2 separate regions of the Homo sapiens genome follow, and region 1 is linked to region 2. Evidence: fine-mapped expression QTL. Tissue or cell type: whole blood. Region 2 holds a variant in brackets; the other region holds the start of a gene. All regions are shown on one strand. Distances are from middle to middle.

Region 1 (9,642 bases), 27 kb after region 2:
ACATGAAACTGATGCTGAGAAGGAAAAATAAAAAAAGTTTTGATTTGCTCTCACTATGCACTTTGGACTTAAAGAAGAAAAAAAAAAAAAAGGAAGAGCCTTTTTGTTTTATTTTTGAGACAGAGTCTCACTCTGTCACCTAAGCTAGAATGCAGTGGCGTGATCTCAGCTCACTGCAACCTCCGCCTCCCGGGTTCTCCTGCCTCAGCCTCCCGAGTAGCTGGGACTACAGGCACCCACCACCACACCCAGCTAATTTTTTTTTTTTCTCTTGAGATGGAGTCTCGTTCTGTCACCCAGGCTGGAGTGCAGTGGCGTGATCTCGGCTCACTGCAACCTCCGCTTCCCAGGTTCAAGTGATTCTCTTGCCTCAGACTCCTGAGTAGCTGGGATTACAGGCGCCTGCCACTGCGCCCAGCTAATTTTTGTATTTTTAGTAGAGACGGAGTTTCACCATGTTAGCCAGGATGGTCTCGATCTCCTGACCTCGTGATCCACCCACCTCAGCCTCCCAAAGTGCTGGGATTACAGGCGTAAGCCACCGCGCCCAGCCAGGAGAGCCTTTTCCATAACCAAATACAGACAATACTGACTAAATCTCCTGAGCATATTCAGGCAGTCAGGTCTGCACTGTGATAGCAACCTAGAGAAGGAGAATGCTTTCTACTGAAAAGCATGTGGCCCTTTGTGACTCTGTTGTTCCATTTTTAATATCTAATGATTCAATAGAGGGAAAAAAAAAGTCTAAGTAGTTATGTATCATGGTGGACCAGAGGGATGCAAGAGAAGTTCATGTGGGGCTGGCCTCACCTCCTGAGAAATCAGTGTTCACAACTTCCTTGTAATAGTATGAGCCTTTGGCACCATTACTGCACCAAGAAGCCAATAGATCAAAACTTGTTTGCTAAAATGTATGTAAAAATTCTGAAATTCCCTATTCTGTGTGTATGAAAAAAAAAAATCAAACACTAAGACACATGTTTTGGGTAGGTAGGTGGGTGGGTGGGGGAAATCTCTCTCTCTCTCTGTATGTGTGTATGTATATATATATATGTACATACACACACAATATATATATATACACACACTATATATATATACACACTATATATATACACACACACTATATATATATACACACACACTATATATATACACACACACTATATATACACACACACTATATATATACACACACTATATATATATACACACACACTATATATATACACACACACTATATATATACACACACACTATATATATACACACACACTATATATATATACACACACACTATATATATACACTATATATATAAAATATATATTTTGCTGACAGAAAAAAAAAAACGAAAAGGTTGGGGAGTGCTGCACTATGCAGCAAACCCTGTGAATTACCTGCCTGACCTCATGTAATTCTCCAGACAATTCTGTGAATTACCTGCCTGTCCTCATGTAATTCTCCAAACAATTCTGTCATCCCTATTTTACAGATGAGGAAACTGAGGCTCAGCAATGAAACTGAGTAAAAGGCTTGCTGTCTGATGTGTCAGAAGACAATCTTGTGATTAGGAAAATTAATAGTCATTACTTTTTTTTTTTTTAACTCTTTGGGACACAGTTTCAGAAGGAACTGACTGTCAGGACACAGAGCCACTCAACGGGAGGGCAGATTCACACCTGACCCCAGAGTCCTAGCTGCCTCTACCTGTCCAAGGGGAATTTTACAGTGATCAGTCCAAAATGCGCGGTTTGCAACATCTTCACCCCCTCAGGAAAGCCTTCCAGCGCCAGTGCATCCTCCCTGTGTGCGCACACCCTCCACCAGCCCTCCAAGGTATTTCCTGCATTGCATTGTGAGGATACACATGGCTGGGAGCACCTGCTCCCGGGATTCAGTCTTACTTGTGCCAGCATCCCTAGCACCCAGCACAATGCCTGACACATGTTGGGCACAGAAACAATGAATGGATAAACAAGCCTGGCCTCCCTGGGCCCAAGCCCTGTAAACCTACCCAAAGCCAGAGCAGCCTGCCTTGGGGACTCAGTGGACCTCCCCTCAGGCTGGGATCACACCCCCAAGAGAGTAATCCAGACAGACTGAGGACAGAGCAGGTTCTCTCAGCCAGCTTTTTCTCCAGCACTGAAACAGTCACAATCTGTTCTTTAGCTGTGCACCAGATGCAGGAACTGGCTTATGTTTGGGAACCATGTTGCACAAAAATCCCACCTTAAACATTAGAACTTTAAAAGGAATGAGTGTGTGCTCGCTGCTCTGTGTCCCTTTTTGCCCTAGGGAGATCATACATGATGGCAGGAGCTACAGCAGCCAGCTTGGACCATGAGATGGAAGCCTAAGTTTGAGCAAGAAAAGCCACATTATCAAAGGAATCCTGCTCCCAGATGATCTCACAGAACACAGCAAGCTGTGCTACCAGCTCTGGACTGTGTACTTCCAGAATGTTAAGGAGCAAGGAATAAACTTCTGTTTCCACCACTGTAGATTTCACCTAACTAAAGGCGTGAGCATTGCCCAGTGATCATCCACTCTGGCCTCTCTCTGCAGGTAAAACAATAATAGTAAGATCAACAATTTCCCAACCAAACTGTAACTGGGATTTTGTCATTACTATATAATTTTGAAGAAAAGGCTATCAGGAAAGAATCATTTGAATCATGTTGAACCTAGAGAAAAAGGACAAACTGATCTGATTTGTTTCATCCTTGAGTATTACAGACATACCTCAGATTTCCAGACAGCCCAGGCTACTCTTTTCTGACAGTTTGCCTGTGTAAACTCCAGCTTGGCTCCCCTCGTCCGGCTCATTACCTGAATCAATGACACACAAGTGGAAAATCTGATGAGAACCTAAAGGGTACCTGCTCCCTCAGAGCTGCCTTTTCATGCATCCATCAAACATAGACAAATACAGAGTGCTTAGCACAGAGCCTGGCCCAAGGAAGTGCTGAATAAATGGCCTGCTCTGTGCCAGATAGCATGCTGACACTGGGACACAAAGATGCACAGACTCAGCCTCAGGCCCTGCTCTCAAGAACTCCAGCTCAATAAGAGACAGGACACAATGTTAAGAAGGAAAAACGACAAGGTTTGTATCCAAGCATTACTGCAGCATTGGCACTGCTCTGGGATATCCTGGACACTTTGTTTCTCATTGCATACCCTACCCTAGGTGAGCTCATCCCCTCCCATGACTTCAGTGACCTTTGATGGTGATAACTACTAGCTGAACAGGTGCACTTGAATGTTTTACAGGCATCCAACTCCAACATGTTCAAAACTAAACATATCTGCCCTCCCCCAGATCTGCTCCCCGTACTGCTCCCTATCACATGGAGCAGCATCCAACACCCATCAGTCAAAAACTGGGGTGATCCTGACTCCTCCCTGCCCCTAACTCTCATCAAACTAATCACCAAATTGTGTCAATTCTATCGCTAAAACCATCTCTCCTCACTCTCTGCCTTTAACTCACACCTTTATTTCTCACTTGGATTATTCTAGCAGGCTCTTAATTGGCCTACAGGCCCACTCCCTTTGATACATTCTTCACTTAGCCAGAGTGATCTTCCTAATCCACAAATCTGATTCGTGGCCAGGCATGGTTGCACATGCCTATAATCCCAGTACTTTGGGAGGCTGAGGCGGGAGGATCATTTGAGGCCAAGAGTTCGAGACCAGTCTGGGCAACATAGTGAGACCCCATCTCTACTAAAAATTTAAAAAATTAGCCAGGTGTTATGGTGCACGCCTGTAGTCCCAGCTAGTTGGGAGGCTGAGGCAGAAGGATCACTTGAGTTCAGATCAAGGCTGCAGTGAACTATGATTATGCTGCCACTGCACTCCAGCCTGGGTGACAGAGCAAGACGTAGTCTCAAAAAAAAAAAACAAAAACAAAAACAAAAAAAACCTGATTCTTTTATTTCAGGCTGGAAATAAAAGAATCCTCCCACCTCAGCCTTCCAAGAAGCTGGGACCACCAGAGGTGTACTCCACCATGCCCGGCTATTTTTTTTTTCCTTTTTTTTTTTTTTTCTTTTAATAAAGATGGGGTCTTGCCATGTTGCCCAGGCTTGTCTCAAACTCCTGGGCTCAAATGATCATCCCACGTTGGCCTCCCAAAGTGCTAGAATTACAGAGTAAGCCACCGCACCTGGCCACAGATCTGATTCTTAAATGGCTTCCCATTAACCTAAAGTTTAAAGTCCTTAACTAGGTTTACAACGTCCCCTAAGACCAGACCACAGCTTGCTGCTGCTTTTTTTTTTTTTCTTTTTTGAGACGGAATCTCGCTCTGTCGCCCAGGCTGGAGTGCAGTGGCGCCGTTTCGGCTCACTGCAACCTCCGCCTCCTGCGTTCGAGCGATTCTCATACCTCAGCCTCCTGAGCAGCTGGGACTACAGGCGCGCGCAAGCACGACCGGCTAATTTTTGTATTTTTAGTAGAGACGGGGGTTTCACCATATTGGCCAGGCTGGTCTCGAACTCCTGACCTCAAGTGATCTGCCCGCCTGGGCCTCCCAAAGTGCTGAGATTACAAGCGTGAGACAACGAGCCCGGCCCAGTCTGCTTCTTTATTTAGCCTGATCTCTCTCTCCTCTCTCTACGAAGATGAGTTTTCTCACAAACTACACCCTTAACTGGGAATACCCGTTTTCCTGCCTCACTCCGCTGAGCTTCCCTTAGATCTTAGCTTTCTGGGGGACAGAAGCCTCCCGGGATTCCCCCTAGGCTGAGTGATGTGTCTCTACTCCGTGCTTCAGAGGAAGGAGGGCTTTCTGCCCTCGCAGCAGTATCAGAATTGCTGATTTACCTGTATGTCTCCCACATGGGTCTCTGAGCTCTGGGTGACAATGGTGATACAATTAATAACAGCAACAAACACACAGCATTTACTTTGTACCCATAAGTGTTCTAGGAGCCTCATTTCCCCTTTATTACAATCTTAGGAGGCTGATTTTATTATCATCTCTGCTTAAAGGATGAATAAACCCAGGCAGAGAGAAAAAGCCAAAAGTGCCTAAGGTCACAGCAGGGAATGGGGATTCAAACCCCGCTGCTGGGCTCCACGGTTCACACTCCTAACTCCAGGATCGAGGATCCTGGAGGATCGAGTCCGCCCGCATCACTCGCTCTAGCTTCACCATCTATCAGGTGCTGAACCACCGTCCGCAGTACGAATGAATGAATGAAATGCTTTTATACAGGGACAGCGTCGGCCTCCTCTGTCAGCTCCTCCTAGGCCCGGGCAGCCCCGCTCCCTCCCGCCCCGGCCGGCCGACAGGAGCTGCCCCGGCACTGCGCTCCCTCGCGGCCGCAGAACGCCCACCCTCGACAGCGCGCGGGGTCAAGGGGCGGTGACAGCCGTGCGGCGGGGGCGGAGATGCTACCAGCTGGGGTGTCATCCAGCCCGGGAGGTGACACGCGCCCCCTCGCCCGGGCGGTCGCCTGGCCGCCCACTCCCCGCCAGCACGCCCGGCGACGCCCCCCGCCCCGCCACCCCACAATCTCCCGCCCAGCGGTGTCCCCTCAGCCCCGGTTGGCGTCCCATTCCACTTCCCTCCCCTCCCCCACACAACCGTCACCGGCGTCCCACCGCGCCCCATCCTCCGCCGCCTCCGCCCCGGCTCCCGGGACTTCCCCGGCCCCGGGCGATTGTTGACACTCACCTGCCATGTCCCGGACCCCACCGCAGAGGGAGGTGCATCACGGCCGCGAGAAGGCCGGGGACGGCACTCCAGAGCAGACAAAGGGCGCCGCCATGTTAGAGTCGGGCGGAACCGACCTCGCAGGCTTCCCGGCTGCAACTTCCGGCGCATGCGCAGCGTCCTCGCTAGGAGAGCGCCCATAGACAGACGCATGCGCCTAGCTATCCAAAAGTTCCACCTTACAGTACTTCGGCGCTCAGAGTTGTCCTCATTGTACCCCTGCCTTGGTTTCTCTTCCAAATATAACAGTAACATCATGTGTTCAGCTCTTACTGTGTGCCAGGCACTGTGTTAAGCGCTTTACATGCATTATCTCTTTAAATCCTCACACCAATTATAAGATAGTATTATTCTCCTAATTTTAAAAAAGGGAAAACAGACTCAAAAAGTGTAAATCAATGTCCATGGTCACATATCTTGTAAGTGGTGGACCGGAGATATGAATCTACTTGTGGCTTCAAAGCTGCAGATCCCAGTTGTGTTTTTCTACCTTCTAAACCGAACATTATCCCCTTCCCTGATTGTCTTGGACGTGAATAAAGGTGTCTGAAAACAAAAGTGTCTGCAGACTTGCATGGCCCCTCCGTGGCCCCTCTTCTACCTTTTTGGTAGCTCTAGGCCACTGACTTCTCCACTTTCTCACAGTCTGAGGGCTTTCTCCTTTGTTTACTTCTAGGCCTGCATATTTTCCATAATCTATAATTTTAACAACACTCTTGCCACTACTGTAAGCTCTTTTGCCCCCTTGCCTTTTTGTCACATGGATTTGGTAAGAATACCAACGCTGTGTGAATCCAAATGCACCTTTTCTCTTTGTTAGCTCCCAAACAGCCAAGCACAGCTGAAGAAAGTATGCAGTGGGGAGACTGTTCCCTAGAGATTCATGTCCACTAGCCTTCAGTGGGATGCAACATATGCCAATCTGGCAACTCACTCCTGTCTTCACAATGGCTAGAGAAACAAAAAAGCCCAGCAGTTGACTTCACCCCTTCTTGTCTTTAGGTTTTTTTTTTTTTTTTGGAGACAGAGTCTCACTCTGTCTTCCAGGCTGGAGTGCAGTGGCGCTGTCTCGGTTCACTGCAAGCTCCGCCTCCCGGGTTCACGCCATTCTCCTGTCTCAGCCTCCAGAGTAGCTGGGACTACAGGCGCCCGCCACAACACCTGGCTAATTTTTTGTATTTTTAGTAGAGACGGGGTTTCACCATGTTAGCCAGGATGGTCTCGATCTTCTGACCTCGTGATCCACCTGCCTCAGCCTCCCAAAGTGCTGGGATTACAGGCGTGAGCCGCCGTGCCCGGCCGTCTTTCTTTTCTTTCTTTTTTTTTTTTTTAGATGGGGTCTCGCTATGTTGCCCGGCTGGACTGAAACCCCTAGGCTTAAGCATCCCATTTCAACCTCCCCAGTAGCTGAGACTACAGGCATGTGCACCCACAACTGGCTAACTTCACCCGTTCTTTTTAACTATATTTTTAATTTTTATTTCAGTAGTTTTTGGGGAACACATGGTGTTTGGTTACATGGATAAGTTCTTTAGTGATGATTTCTGTGATTTTGGGGGACCCATGACCTGAACAGTGTACATTCTACCCAAGGTGTAGTCTTTTTTTTTTTTTTTTTTTTTTTTTGAGATGGAGTCTTGCTCTGTTGCCCAGGCTGGAGTGCAGTGGCGCCATCTGGGCTCACTGCAAGTTCCGCCTCCCAGGTTCACGCCATTCTCCTGACTCAGCCTCCCGAGTAGCTGGGACTACAGGCGCCCGCCACCATGCCCGGCTAATTTTTTGTATTTTTAGTAGAGACGGGGTTTCACCGTGTTAGCCAGGATGGTCTGGATGTCCTGACCTCGTGATCCGCCCGCCTCGGCCTCCCAAAGTGCTGGGATTGCAGGCGTGAGCCACTGCGCCCAGCCAACCCAAAGTGTAGTCTTTTATCCCTCACCCCTCCCACCTTTCCCCCTGAGTTCCCAAAGTCCATTGTGTCATTCTTATGCCTTTGCGTCCTCATAGCTTAGCTCCCACCTAAAAGTGAGAGCATATGATATTTGGTTTTCCATTCCTGAGTTACTTCATTTAGAATAATGGTCTCTAGCTCCATCCATGTTGCTGCAAATGCCATTATTTCATTCCTTTTTATGGCTGAGTAGTATTCCATGTTATATATATATACCACATTTTCTTTATCCACTCGTGCATTGATGGGCATTTGAGATGGTTCTATATGTTTGCAATTGTGAACTGTGCTGCTACAAACATGCGTGTGGAAGTGTATTTTTCATATAATGACTTATTTTCCTCTCTGTAGATACCCGCTAGTGGGATTGCTGGATCTAATGGCAGATTTACTTTTAGTTCTTTAAGGAACATCCATATTGTTTTCCATAGTGGTTGTGCTAGTTTACATTCCCACCAGCAGTGCAAAAGTGTTCCCTTTTCACCACAACCATGTCAACATCTATCATTTTTTCATTTTTGATTGTGGCCATTCATGCAGGAGTAGGTATGGCATTATGGTTTTGATTTGCATTTGCCTGATGATTAGTGATATTGAGCATTTTTTCACGTTTGTTGGCCATTTGTGTATCTTCTTTTAAGAACTGTCGGGCCGGGCGCGGTGGCTCACGCCTGTAATCCCAGCACTTTGGGAGGCCGAAGTGGGCAGATAGCCTGAGGTCAGGAGTTCGAGACCAGCCTGGTCAACATGGCGAAACCTCGTCTCTACTAAAAAATCAAAAAAATAAAAATAAAAAAAATAGCCAGCATCGTGGTGGGCACCTGTAGTACCAAGCTACTCAAGAGGCTGAGGCAGGGAGAATTGCTTGATCCTGAGGCTGCAGTGAGCTAAGATTGTGCCACTGCACTCCAGCCTGGGCGACAGTGTGAGACTCTGTCTCAAAAAAAAAAAAATAAGAATTGTCTGTTCATGTCCTTAGCATGTGACTTTTTAATAGGATTATTTGCTTTTTTCTTGCTGATTTGTTTGAGTTCCTTGTAGATTCTGGGTATTAGTTCTTTGTTGGATGCATAGTTTGTGAAAATTTTCTCCCACTCTGTGGGTTGTCTGTTTACTCTGCTGATTATTTATTTTGCTGTGCAGAAACTTTTTAGTTTAATTAGGTCCCATTTATTTATATTCATTTTTGTTGCATTTGCTTTTGGGTTCTTAGTCATAAAGTCTTCGCCTAAGCCAATGTCCAGAAGAGTTTTTCCAATGTTGTCTTCTAGAATTTTTGTGGTTTCAGGTCTTAGATTTCAGTCTTTGATCTATCTTGAGTTGATATTTGTATAAGGTGAGAGATGAGGATACAGTTTCATTCTTCTACGTGTGGCTTGCCAATTATCCCAGTACCATTTACTGAATAGGGTGCCCCTCCCCCCTTTATATTTTTGTTTGCTTTGTTGAAGATCCATTGGATATAAGTATTTGGCTTTATTTCTGGGTTCTCTATTCTGTTCGTTTGGTCTATGTACCTATTTTATTCCAGTACCGTGCTGTTTTGGGGACTATAGCCTTGTAGTATAGTTTGAAGTTGGGTAATGTGATGCTCCCAGATTTGTTCTTTTTGCTTAGTTTTGCTTTGGATATGCAGGCCCCTTTTTGGTTCCATACTTCCCCATTTCTTAAAAAAATTTTTTTTAAATCATAGTAAGAAAACTTAATATGAGAGCTGTCCTCTTAAGAATTTGTTCTTTCTCTTCAACTTTTATTTTAAGTTCAAAGGTACATGTGCAGGAGGTGCAGGTTTGTTACATAGGTGGTAATATATGACCCATGTTTACTTTAGGTTGAACTAATGTTTGGACTTAACATTTAAATGTATTACAGGCCAGGTGTGGTGGCTCATGCCTGTAATCCCAGCACTTTGGGAGGCCAAGGCAGGAGGATCGCTTGAGACTGGGAATTGGAGACAAGCCTGGGC
Region 2 (10,197 bases):
GGCCTTACCGCACATCACACACTGGCATGGCTTCTCACCTGGGGACCGGGCAGAAGGTGTTGGTGCCTGCTCCTCTCCGTGCCCTCCCAGTCCTGGGCATGGCCGCTCACCACCCACCTGTGTGAATGCGGACGTGCCGCTGCAGAGCGCCGGGGTCTGCAAACTGTCGCTGGCAGTGGATGCACACGTAGGGCTTCTCCCCGCTGTGGATCCGAAGGTGCCGCTTCAGGTTCCCTGTGGCGAGACCGAGGGCGAACCTGGCGTGGGGCACCACCGGTGGCCGAGGAGCAGGGGTGTGAGGGCAGCCAGGGCAGCCCTGGCCCTACCTGAGGTGGTGAACTGCTTCCCACACTCTCGGCACTTGAGGGGCCCGTCAGCGATGTGGATCTTCAGGTGGGCCTTCAGGTTCCCTACCTGTGCCCAGGGAGGGGTCAGGGGGGCCACCCCACAGAGCTCGGCCCCGGGCCCCCTCACCTGCCCCTCCCACAAAGGAACAATTGACTCTCAGGCTTGCCAGGGTCCGTGAAGGGCTCTATCTCTCCTGGGTCAGGAGAGGTCCCAGGTCCCAGCGGTGAGAGGTAAGCCGCCCCACCCCATTTTTTCAGGACCAAACCCCGCCCTGAGTCGGCCTGCCCTCCGCAGAGCAACCGGGAGCTCCCCCGCGGAAGTGGCTCTCGCTGCGCCTGTTTCCTGGGTGAACAAGCTGATGAGCTCCTGGAGGCCGGGGCTGTGCTCCCCGCCCGCCCCACCACGTGGCATGCATGCGGCTGCGGCCACCGGCGGCTGCCAGGCGCTGGTTCCGGGAGGGGTCCGCACACCTGGTTGAACTTCTTGTCGCAGTGTGGGCACTTGTGCTCCTTGTCCGTGTCGTGGGTCTCCAGGTGGCGCATCTTGGAAGTGGGGTCGGAGAAGGAGCGGCCGCAGTAGTCGCACTGGTAGGGCTTCTCGCCGCTGTGCACCAGCTGGTGGCGCTTGAGGTTGCCCGAGGTGGTGAAGAGCTTGCCGCAGTCCTCGCAGCGGTAGCGCGCCTCGCCCGAGTGCCGCTTCTTGTGCAGGTTCAGCAGGCTGATGAGGCGGTAGCTCTTCCCGCACTCCTCGCAGCCGTAGGGCTTCAGAGGGCTGCAGGGCCAGAAGGCGACAGGAGGCAGGGCTCGCTGGGGCGTGAAAGGCCGGGCCTGGCAGGGGCCGGGGTAGGAGGCCGGCTTGGGGCAGTACCTGTGCGTCTTCTCATGGGCCTTGCACGCGGCCGGGTCGGAAAAGGCCTTGCTGCACTCCCGGCACGAGAAGGGCTTCTCCCCCGTGTGGATGCGGATGTGCCGCTTGAAGTTCCCCGTGTGCGTGAACTCCTTCCCACAGTCCTGTGGGTGCAGCGGGGAAGCGGGGTGTGAGGAGCAGCCGGTGGGAGGCCGGAGGGGAGGGACGCTGGCTGGGAGGGCTGGCCATAGTCTCCCTCACCTCGCACTTGTGGATGACGGAGCCGTAGGCCTTGGACTCCGTGCGGTCGCCGTAGGTGCCTGAGCGCAGGCCCCGGGCCTCGGAGCCGAGCTCCTGCCCCGAGTCTGTGCCCGCTGACTCCTCATTCTCGTTCTCCTCGGGGGCCTCTCCGTTCTCCAGCTGGGAACCCTCCTCCTTGACCTCAGCTGGCCCTGCGCCCTCCTCCTCTTGCTCCTCTTGCTCCTTTTGCTCCTCTTCCCCTTTCCGGGCGGGCTCCACCTCCATTTCTGCGGAGAAAAGGGCAAGCATGGAGGCGGCAGCCCTCTCTGCCTGAGCGCACGTGAGGGGCGCCGGCAACATGTGGAAGGGACAGTAAATGGCCCCAGCACTGGCCAAGGAAAGCCCCCGGGGGGGCCTGTGAACTGGGTATTTGCTGCTTGCGGGATGCAGGTAGGGGGCTTAGCCAGCTGGGGTGGGCGCTGTCGGCCAGCAGGCACTGGAGGGTTGCCGTGGGTGGCAAGGCACCCCTGCACGGTGCTGAAAGCCGGGAAGCAGCAGAAGCTCCAGGGCTTTGAAGGACGTGCCTGTGCTCACAGACACACGGCTAGCATGGTCAACCAAGGAACGACCTCGAGACTCAAGAACATGCGAAGACCAAGGTGTCCCAAAGCTGAAGTGCATGGTGACTCCAGGTGGGACTAGCTGGAGGCAGGAGGAGAGGGAGGCCCCAGTGCGCAGTGGAGGCAGGGCCCTGGGAGGATGCACCAGGTAGGGCCTGGTCCTGGCTGGGCGGGGCTACCTTGCTCCGAGCTCTCGGACAAAGCGGCCTCAGCTTCTGCAGCAGCCATGCCACTCGTGGGGTCTGGCTTGAGCTCCACAGGCGGCGGCTCCCGGGGCGCATCGGCTTTCTCTGTCTGCTCTGCACCTGGGTGGGGGAAGCACCGGAGGCTGGATTGCTACCCTCTGCCCAGGGGTCGGATACCTCTCCTGGACCAGCGCGCTGGTGGTGGCTGCGTGTGACCCAGGAGGGGAGGCCCCAGCACACCCCTAGCCAAGGCTGTTGTGTCTGCTCTGGTTGAAACAGACCCCCTGGAACACACAATAGGTCATTCTGGGTAACACAGGCTCAAGAGGTGCAGGTGCCCGTGCTACCTGCCCCAAGGCAGCCCTCACTACCCTGTGCCCAGGCTGCTGGGAGGTGACAGGACAGCCGGCTGGGTCCTTGGCATCTGACTCACCGCTGGCCGCACTCTGGGCCTGACCGCCGCGCTCCTCCTTGAGGTCCCTGCTGGGGCCTATGGGTGTGCTGCGTCCTGCCTGCTCCAGCCTGCTCAGCGTGCTGGTGGCCACCTTCTCCTCTTTGGCTCTCTTGTCCCCTCCTGGAGATGGAACAGGGCAGACCTGCCGTTTCCCATCAAGTGCCCGCCATCTGGAGGTGTGAGGTGGCCCAGAACTTGCTAGGTCTTCCTCGTCCTCCCTAGGGTACCTCTAAGTAGTGGTTTGCTGATTTGTTCATTCACCAAATTATTCACAGGGCACCCACTCCATGCCAGGCTGATGGCTGGGCACTGGGAATACAACAGTGATGGTTCCTGCTTGTGTGGGACATGCAGACCCCATGTGTGCACTAAGGGAGCTGATCAGAGGTCAGCACTAGGAAAGGGAGGAACGCAGCCTCTGGAAGTCTACAGCAAGGCACCTGGCCCATAGTGGGCATCTGAGGGCTTTTATCTTAGCAGCTAAGGGAAGTGGAAGGAGGGGCTCAGGAGAACAGACCCGCAGGAGGGTTTAGGAGCCTGCCCGTGTGCAAAGGCACTGAACCAGGCACGGCTCCCGGGTGCTCTGTAGGGGAAAGGCAGGCAGAGAGGCCACCCTCAGACCTGAGGCTAACCCTTGCCAGCACCCACAACCGAGGCAGGGCCAGATGAGGAAACTGAGACCCAGAAAGTCAGAGGCAGAGCCCACATCAAAAGCCAAGGTCTCTGGCCATCTGCTTGGGAGCAGCTGCCAATAACCTACCTTCTGTGGCCAAGGCCTCCGCATTTCCCCCAGGGCTGGTAGCCGGCTCAGCAAGTGACTTGAGGGCATGGCAGGCCGTGATGATGTCCTGCATTTGGAGGAAAGTGGCCACGGCCAGCACATCATCCACGTTCTCAGGGCTCAGGCTCAGCTTGGCCGTGTACATAAACTCCAGCACCTGCCCCAGGCCTACCAAGGACAGGACAGCTGTCACAGACCCACCTCAAGATCCGGCACCGGCAGCCTGCCCCACCACTCCACTCAGCAGCAGGACGCAGGGATTTAGGAACAGCTGAGTGGCAAGCCTGCATCGCCCCATCTCCTCTGTGGAGAGGAGGCAGGTAACCTGGGGGATCTCAGCACTACCAACAGCCCTTGAAAAGAAGTGCTCGCTGAGGGTCTGAATGCCTGCCCTGCACAGAGAACAAAAGGTGTGAACGCCCACCCTGCACAGAGGACAGGAGGTGTGAATGCCCACACTGCACAGGGAACAGAAGGTGCAACTGTCCGCCCTGCATGGAGGAGGATGGGCTGTGAATGCCGCCCATGCATGGAGAAAAGGAGGTGTGAATATGCACCCTGCACAGAGGACGGGGGTATAAATGCCCATCCTGCAGGGAGGACAGAGTGTGAATGCCTGCCCTGGATGAGGACAGAGGTGTGAATGCCCACCCTGCATTGAGGACGGATGTTGTGAACACCTGCCCTCCACACCCTCTTATTTGGCCGCTACACTTCACCAGTGGAGGACACTCCAACCTGACTTTCATCAGGGCTCTGCTACCAACTCTCTATCTGACTGACCTCCAGGCCAGTCACTGACCTCTTTGGGTCTCAGTTTCCACATCTATAAAATGGGAGAATAATACCTTCTCATGGCATGTCACGTCAGTCTGGGTTGGGAGTCTGAATCCAGGACCAGTTCCTTCCACAACCCCAAGGTCTTCCTGACACTGCTCCCAGCCCCTAGGCCTTCCCCATCACCTCTCCCCACGCTTCTAGTTAGCACTGGGGTAGATGCTTCAGGACTGACTCTGCCACGGAAAGGGGCCAGAGGGCATAGAGCCTGCCTACTCTCTGCCCCTCCCAATGAGGCCTTTCCTGTGTTCACTGCGGCCTAGAGCTCATCATGAGCCCTTCCTGCCCGTTCTCCCCTTACCACTCCACTACCAATCAAAACAGGCCCCCAAAAGGTGGGAGGAACTTAGTACTGAATTGCTCATGGCCTGAAGCCTGTGCGGGAGGCCTGTTGCATCCCACAGCCTGCAGGTGCTGCCCCTGGAGGGCCTAGCATGGCACAGGGCCGGCCATAGCTTCTGGCTATCAGCAAGCTCAGCCCCAGCCCTGACGGGGTACCTGCCGCGTTACTGATGTCCAGGTGCACCACGTCCTTCTGGTCCACGAAGAGCATCTTGAAGTACTCGCTGCAGGCCGCCAGCACTGCTTTATGAGCCTTAAAGTGAACACCGTCCACCACAAAGGTGCAGTCACAGAGAAGCCCCAGCTGCCGCTGCTGGTTCAGCTGTTCCAAGACATGCTGGCTGTGCTGGGGAAAGTCCATGGCTGAAGAAAGCCAAAGGGCGTTGGGGTTAGCACGGAGAAAGGACGTCAGACACGCTCAACAGTCACTCCTAAAGTCCCAGGCGAGCACCATGGAGAAGACAGAATTAAAACAAGTGAGGGCATTTCTGCCACAAAAGGGCAGTTCAGTCCAGATACCCCCTGCAAGCCAAACTCAACCAACTGGTGGCTCCTGTATTCCTGGGTTTACTGTCCAGGAAAAGTGGCCCAAACCAAAAAGCACTGGGGCACCAACACGAGGCAGCCGCCTCCGTATTCAGCCTGATAATAACATGAAAAAGCCAAAAAAGGGAACAAATACAGAACACTGAAATGTGTCATCATTTCAAAAATGAAACGACATGGTCACTTTAACATTTGTTACAAAAAGAATGCATGACAATCTCAGAATAAAGGACAGATGTTTCAATTGGACATGTTGGTCTTTAAGAAAACTTTCCTATTTTCTCATTCTCTCATGGACAGGTGAAGACAAGACGGTGTTTCATCAGCCAG[T/C]GTTGCAGAACTCGGCCCCTCTCAGGCTCTGCACGTACCCCATCCCCCGACAAAGCCTAGCTCTCCCTCTCTTTCTGATTCATGGGAACTACCTAGAGTTGCGGAGTCTTCTGACTCCAGAAACCTGTGTCCTGGTGGCCATCCCAGGAGAAACAACTTTGATCCTGACCCCAAGAGCTGCTGACCTGGCCACAACTTCTCTGTCAAGGGCCTCACTTAATGCCTGGAAATCCCACAAGTGAAAATGCTCAGGAAAATTCCATGGCCCAGTGCCGAGCAGTCTTGAACCGCACAAGCCGTGACTAAGTAACTATCTAAAACAGCTCTCCCTCCCGCCCCAACACCACCCAGAGTGGGCGTCAACATCAGCAATTGTCTAGGGAAAATAAGCGGGCCCTCTTTTCTAGAAAGAACCCATTTCAGAATGTTTGAAGAGAAAAATCAACACCCACTGTCTGGGGCCACATTAGACAGATTCAACTGGGCACGGCTGTCACGCCCTGGCCCAGGATCTGCTAAGGGGTAGTGAGTTCTCTGCCTACTCCTCCTCTTCTCTGAGGCCTGAGTCTGCACGGGGCTGGCTCCCCGGCTTCTGGGCAGGTGAGAGGGACACTTTGGGGCTCTCCGCCCCCAGTTTCGGCAGCTCTGCCCCGGCTCAGGCACTCCCCTGTGACATCAGCATCTTGGGGGGTGAATCACTGCCGCAGCTCTGAAGCTGCTGTGGCCATGCATGGCTGTCGGGCTGTGATGAGTCCGGAGGAAGCCACGCCCCTCACACCAGCACAGGTCGGCCTTGAAGGGCGCCAAGGCCTCCCACCACGTGATGTCTGGAAACTTTTCACAAGTGGGGGTATCTGCTGAGCGGGGGGAAGTGACGCAACAAATAACGGGGAGCATGGCAGTGGCAACAGGCATGAGCCACAGCGCACCAGCCTCCGAGCCACAAGTTCAGCGTTGCTGCTGCTGCCAGAGGCCCAGAAACAGCTGTTCCCTCCCCCTACACATCCCCGCGCAGGCTTTGGCTCTCTCAATGACATTCCTAAATGGCTGTGGCTAGAGCCCTAAGTGTAAGCACTGGAGAGCCAGGGCCAGCCCCGAAATCAGGAGGTAAGGCCCTGGGGCAGCTGGCCCCGCACCAAGTGCACCAAGTGGCTGGCAGCAGCACACGGCCACCTGGAGCAAAGCACAGAGGCCTTTCTCTCCTGTCCTCAGTCCCTGGAAGCAGCAGGTTCCTATCTGTGACCTGAAGGAACGCAAGGGAGAATCGTGGCTGCGCTGCTCCTATGCACTGGACATGGGGAGGCACCAATGTCCAGCTTGTGGATCAAGACCTGAAGGGCACAAAGGGCAAGGTGGGTGCAGAAGGAACCAAAGGCAGGGGCGAGGTGGGCCCAGGCCACGGCAACCCTAGAGCTGTCTTCTCCTGGCTGTGGAAAAGGTCACGTGAGCACACAGGTGTGTGGGTGGCAAGCCCTGGGCCTCAATTGCTAGTCACCCCCTACATACCCAGGAGCCCCAAGTGCAGAAGAGGGGAATACCAGGGCCCACACAGGGCAAAATCCTCAACTGGCTTCAGAAGCAGCCCATCTGGAACTTGCAAGTGAGGCCCAACCCTTCTCTCCAGGCTGTGTGCCTGGCTTCCTCACCTTCCCCAGGAGCCAACCCGAAACTTGAGCCACCCAGGTGCTAAAACAACCTGGGGAGCATCAGCTGAACCCCCAGAGGTACAAAGAACCCTCTAGCAGGAAAACCATCTGACTTGCCGGGAAGAGACATGTGAGGAGACTCCTAGCCAAGGGGAGGGACAGGATCAATCCCCTTGTGTGGGCCCAAGGCTGGGATGAGCCTCCCTGTGGCCATGTGCCCTGGGGCTTCCTGGCAAGCGCAGCCCCGCCCAGCCATACAGCTGTCCTGGGACTGGATGGATGGATGGATGGGTAAGCTAGATAGATTAGATAAGACACATTCGCTAGATAATAAAATAGTAAAGGCCCCAAGGACAGGGTGGGTGGTGGCCCAGCCCCCCACATACCACCACCCGCCAAGAGAGCAGCTGTGTGCCCATGAGCAACATTTTCCACCGTGCTGACTGCACTTTTCCAATGCAAGATGCCCGCCCAGAAGTGGGCTCCTCCCACACACGGGTGTTAGGAGGAGAAACAGAGGCGTCTATAATCCTCTGAGGCTGCCCCAGCAGAGAAACGCACCAAAAGGGAAGAAAACAGGAGAAATGATAAGAAGGGGGGAGGAAGAAGTGAAGATGGGCAAAGTAAGGGAAGGAAAGGAGAGAGAAGAAGGAAGGAAGGAAGGGAGAGAGGGAGGGAGGGAGGGGCCCTGTACCCACAGAGAGATCAGCAGCAGCTGAAATGCGCTTACCAGTACAATCTGGGACTGGCCTCCCAGGGGTGCAAGAGCAGCTCGAGGGGGCCAGGAGGGGGCGGACTAAGTGCTAAATGGTGTTACCCGCAGAACTGTGTCACTGTGGACTTTACAACCGAAGCCCCACCCTCACAGGGCAAGTGGAGCTCAGGGTCCCCCAGGCTGTTCCCCAGCCGGGAAGCTTTAACAGCCCCTCTCTCAAGGCCCGTGGCGAGACGGAGGCATGGCCGGCTGGGTCCTTCCCTCTGAGGGGCTGAGCTAGAACTAGGCAGTCCCCCACCTCCAACCCACGTGAACTGCTCTGGAGGGATCACCAGCCTGTATCCTAGTTCCCCTCTTATCTATTCCTCAGCGACAGGAACCCAGCAGGACGGCCAGGCTTGGAGGGACATAGGAAAAGGGTTTGGGAGCGAAGGGGTGTGCAGGTCCTAGGAACATATCCCCTCCTAAGTACGTGCTAGGAGGTGCTGTCTGGGGAGACGTTAACCACAGTAATCAGATCAACAGCCAGCTGCTCCCCATCGCCCCCAGATGTGCGGGAACACAGGGTGAAGAAATACTGTTCCCACCAGGCAGCCTGCCCCACCCCACCCTTGGAATACGGTGCCCATCGCTCAAGCACAAGTGTCAAGGTCTGTGGTCTTGTCTTCACCTTGCGTGATGGGCGATAAATATGTGCACTAGTTAAAGCAACTTCTAAGGAAGATCCTAAAACCTTAGAACCATAGAAAATGCCAACAGAACGAGACCACAGAGCCCAGCAGCCCAGAGTCCTCATTTTAGATGCAGACTGACCTGACCCCCACTCACAAAGTCTTAGCTGCAATCGGGCACCTTTTCCCAACACCTCTAGTCACTCAGTTTTTCTCCCTCACCTCAGGTGTCAGAGCTGGGATGCTGTCCTGATGACCAAAAGCTTAGGTGGACACAGAGCCCTGGGCTCCCTCACGAGGAATTCACTGGGGAACAAAAAAGTGAGGCACTGAGGACACCTGCAGTGTGAGTCCGGACAGGCACACTGACACAGCGGAACAGACGCGGCAGAACCGACACGGCGGAACGGACGCGGATGATGCAGAGCCCCTCTCAGGATGGCCAGCCATTCCTCCCCTGCCAGGGCCCACCACGCCTCCCATGGAGAGACGGTGTCTGTTTCCCTCCTGTCGGAATCTGGATGGCCCAGAGACGACTCTGACATCAGGATGCTGGGACTGTGCCAATTCCAGACCTAAACCTAAAGAAGCCTGGAAGATTCTGCTGTGGCTCCTGGGAATCCAGTCACCGAGCTGGAGGAAAGTCCAAGCTCCCGTGTGAGTGGGAGACACATGGAGGGGCTCTGGGGAGAGGGCACATGGAGAAGAGCAGAGAGGCCACTGACAGCACCAATGCTCTGTGGCGAGGGACACACTTTCCTGGACCTCCCAGCCCAGCTGTGCGCTGCTGCACGCACGGCCTCAACCAACACCTCGGGGAGCAAGCGACTGCCTGTCCACCCATCCAACTAAGAAAGACTGACTCACCGATGACTTATGCCACTGGGTTTTGGGGTGCTGTGCTGTGCAGCAGGAGATAACTGAGACGGACGGTAAAACCAGGAAGAAAAGGAAGTGATTCAGCCAAAGGTTCAGGATGACGGTTCTCTCTGGATGGGGGAGGGTAAGCAGGGGACTTCTGAGATCCTAGAAGAGTTCTCTTTCTTTACTTGGAGTCCCCTGGATTTATTACTTAAACTAAATGTGTATATTTCATATACATTTACATGAAAACATTCCAATTATTTAAAAAAATGTATTTTTTTTTTTTTGTAGAAGCAGGATTTCACCATGTTGCCCAGGCTGGTCTCAAACTCCTGGGCTCAAGCAATCTGCCTACCTTGGCCTTCTAAAGTGCTGGGATTACAGGCGTGTGCTACTGCACCCAGCCATTTTTCAAAAATTTTAATAAGAAAAAAGTGAGGTTCAGTTGCCAGACTTGATCCAGTCATGGCACAGAGTGTGCTGGCCAAGGCTGGGTTGCTCCCAACCACACTCCCGGCCATGCTCACCAGGGCTGCCTTGAGGCCCAGCGTGGCAGCGAGGGTCAGAGGAGCTAAGAGAGCCGCCAAGGCTCCTGCGGGTGGGATTTGGAAGGGCTGGCCCCAGAAAGCACAACCCATTGCATCTGTCTTGCAGTCCCAAAGCACCACAGACTGCTGAGTAAGCCAGGTTTCTGTTTGGGCCGTGAAATCCACTCTGGTGCCAAGTTCCATACTGCTGCCTCCACGACGCAGGGATTCCAGTGGCGGCTGAG

The links. PIP is the estimated chance that this variant, and not a neighbour inherited with it, causes the effect.
Region 1: ZBTB17 starts here. The variant in region 2 is fine-mapped to the expression of ZBTB17 in whole blood (TOPMed, PIP above 0.99).

Annotation. Positions count from the first base shown.
Region 1 is chr1:15,970,294-15,979,935 of GRCh38, forward strand. It overlaps ZBTB17 (zinc finger and BTB domain containing 17), which reads right to left and starts at 5,808. Exons shown (of 16, transcript NM_003443.3): 1 at 5,690-5,808; 2 at 2,746-2,832. RefSeq lists enhancers at 4,672-4,781, 5,673-6,172 and silencers at 5,202-5,531, 5,572-5,671.
Region 2 is chr1:15,943,482-15,953,678 of GRCh38, forward strand. It overlaps ZBTB17 (zinc finger and BTB domain containing 17), which reads right to left. Exons shown (of 16, transcript NM_003443.3): 3 at 4,810-5,016; 4 at 3,454-3,642; 5 at 2,673-2,813; 6 at 2,234-2,359; 7 at 1,456-1,721; 8 at 1,216-1,358; 9 at 819-1,119; 10 at 327-414; 11 at 118-234; 12 at 1-38. The coding sequence starts at 5,014. LOC124903855 (a long non-coding RNA gene) reads left to right here and starts at 6,450. Exons shown (of 3, transcript XR_007065486.1): 1 at 6,450-6,881; 2 at 8,789-9,564; 3 at 10,080-10,197. RefSeq lists enhancers at 5,044-5,153, 5,754-5,923, 6,415-7,202, 7,622-7,671, 8,915-10,114. The variant T/C (reference allele first, on the strand shown) is at 5,530.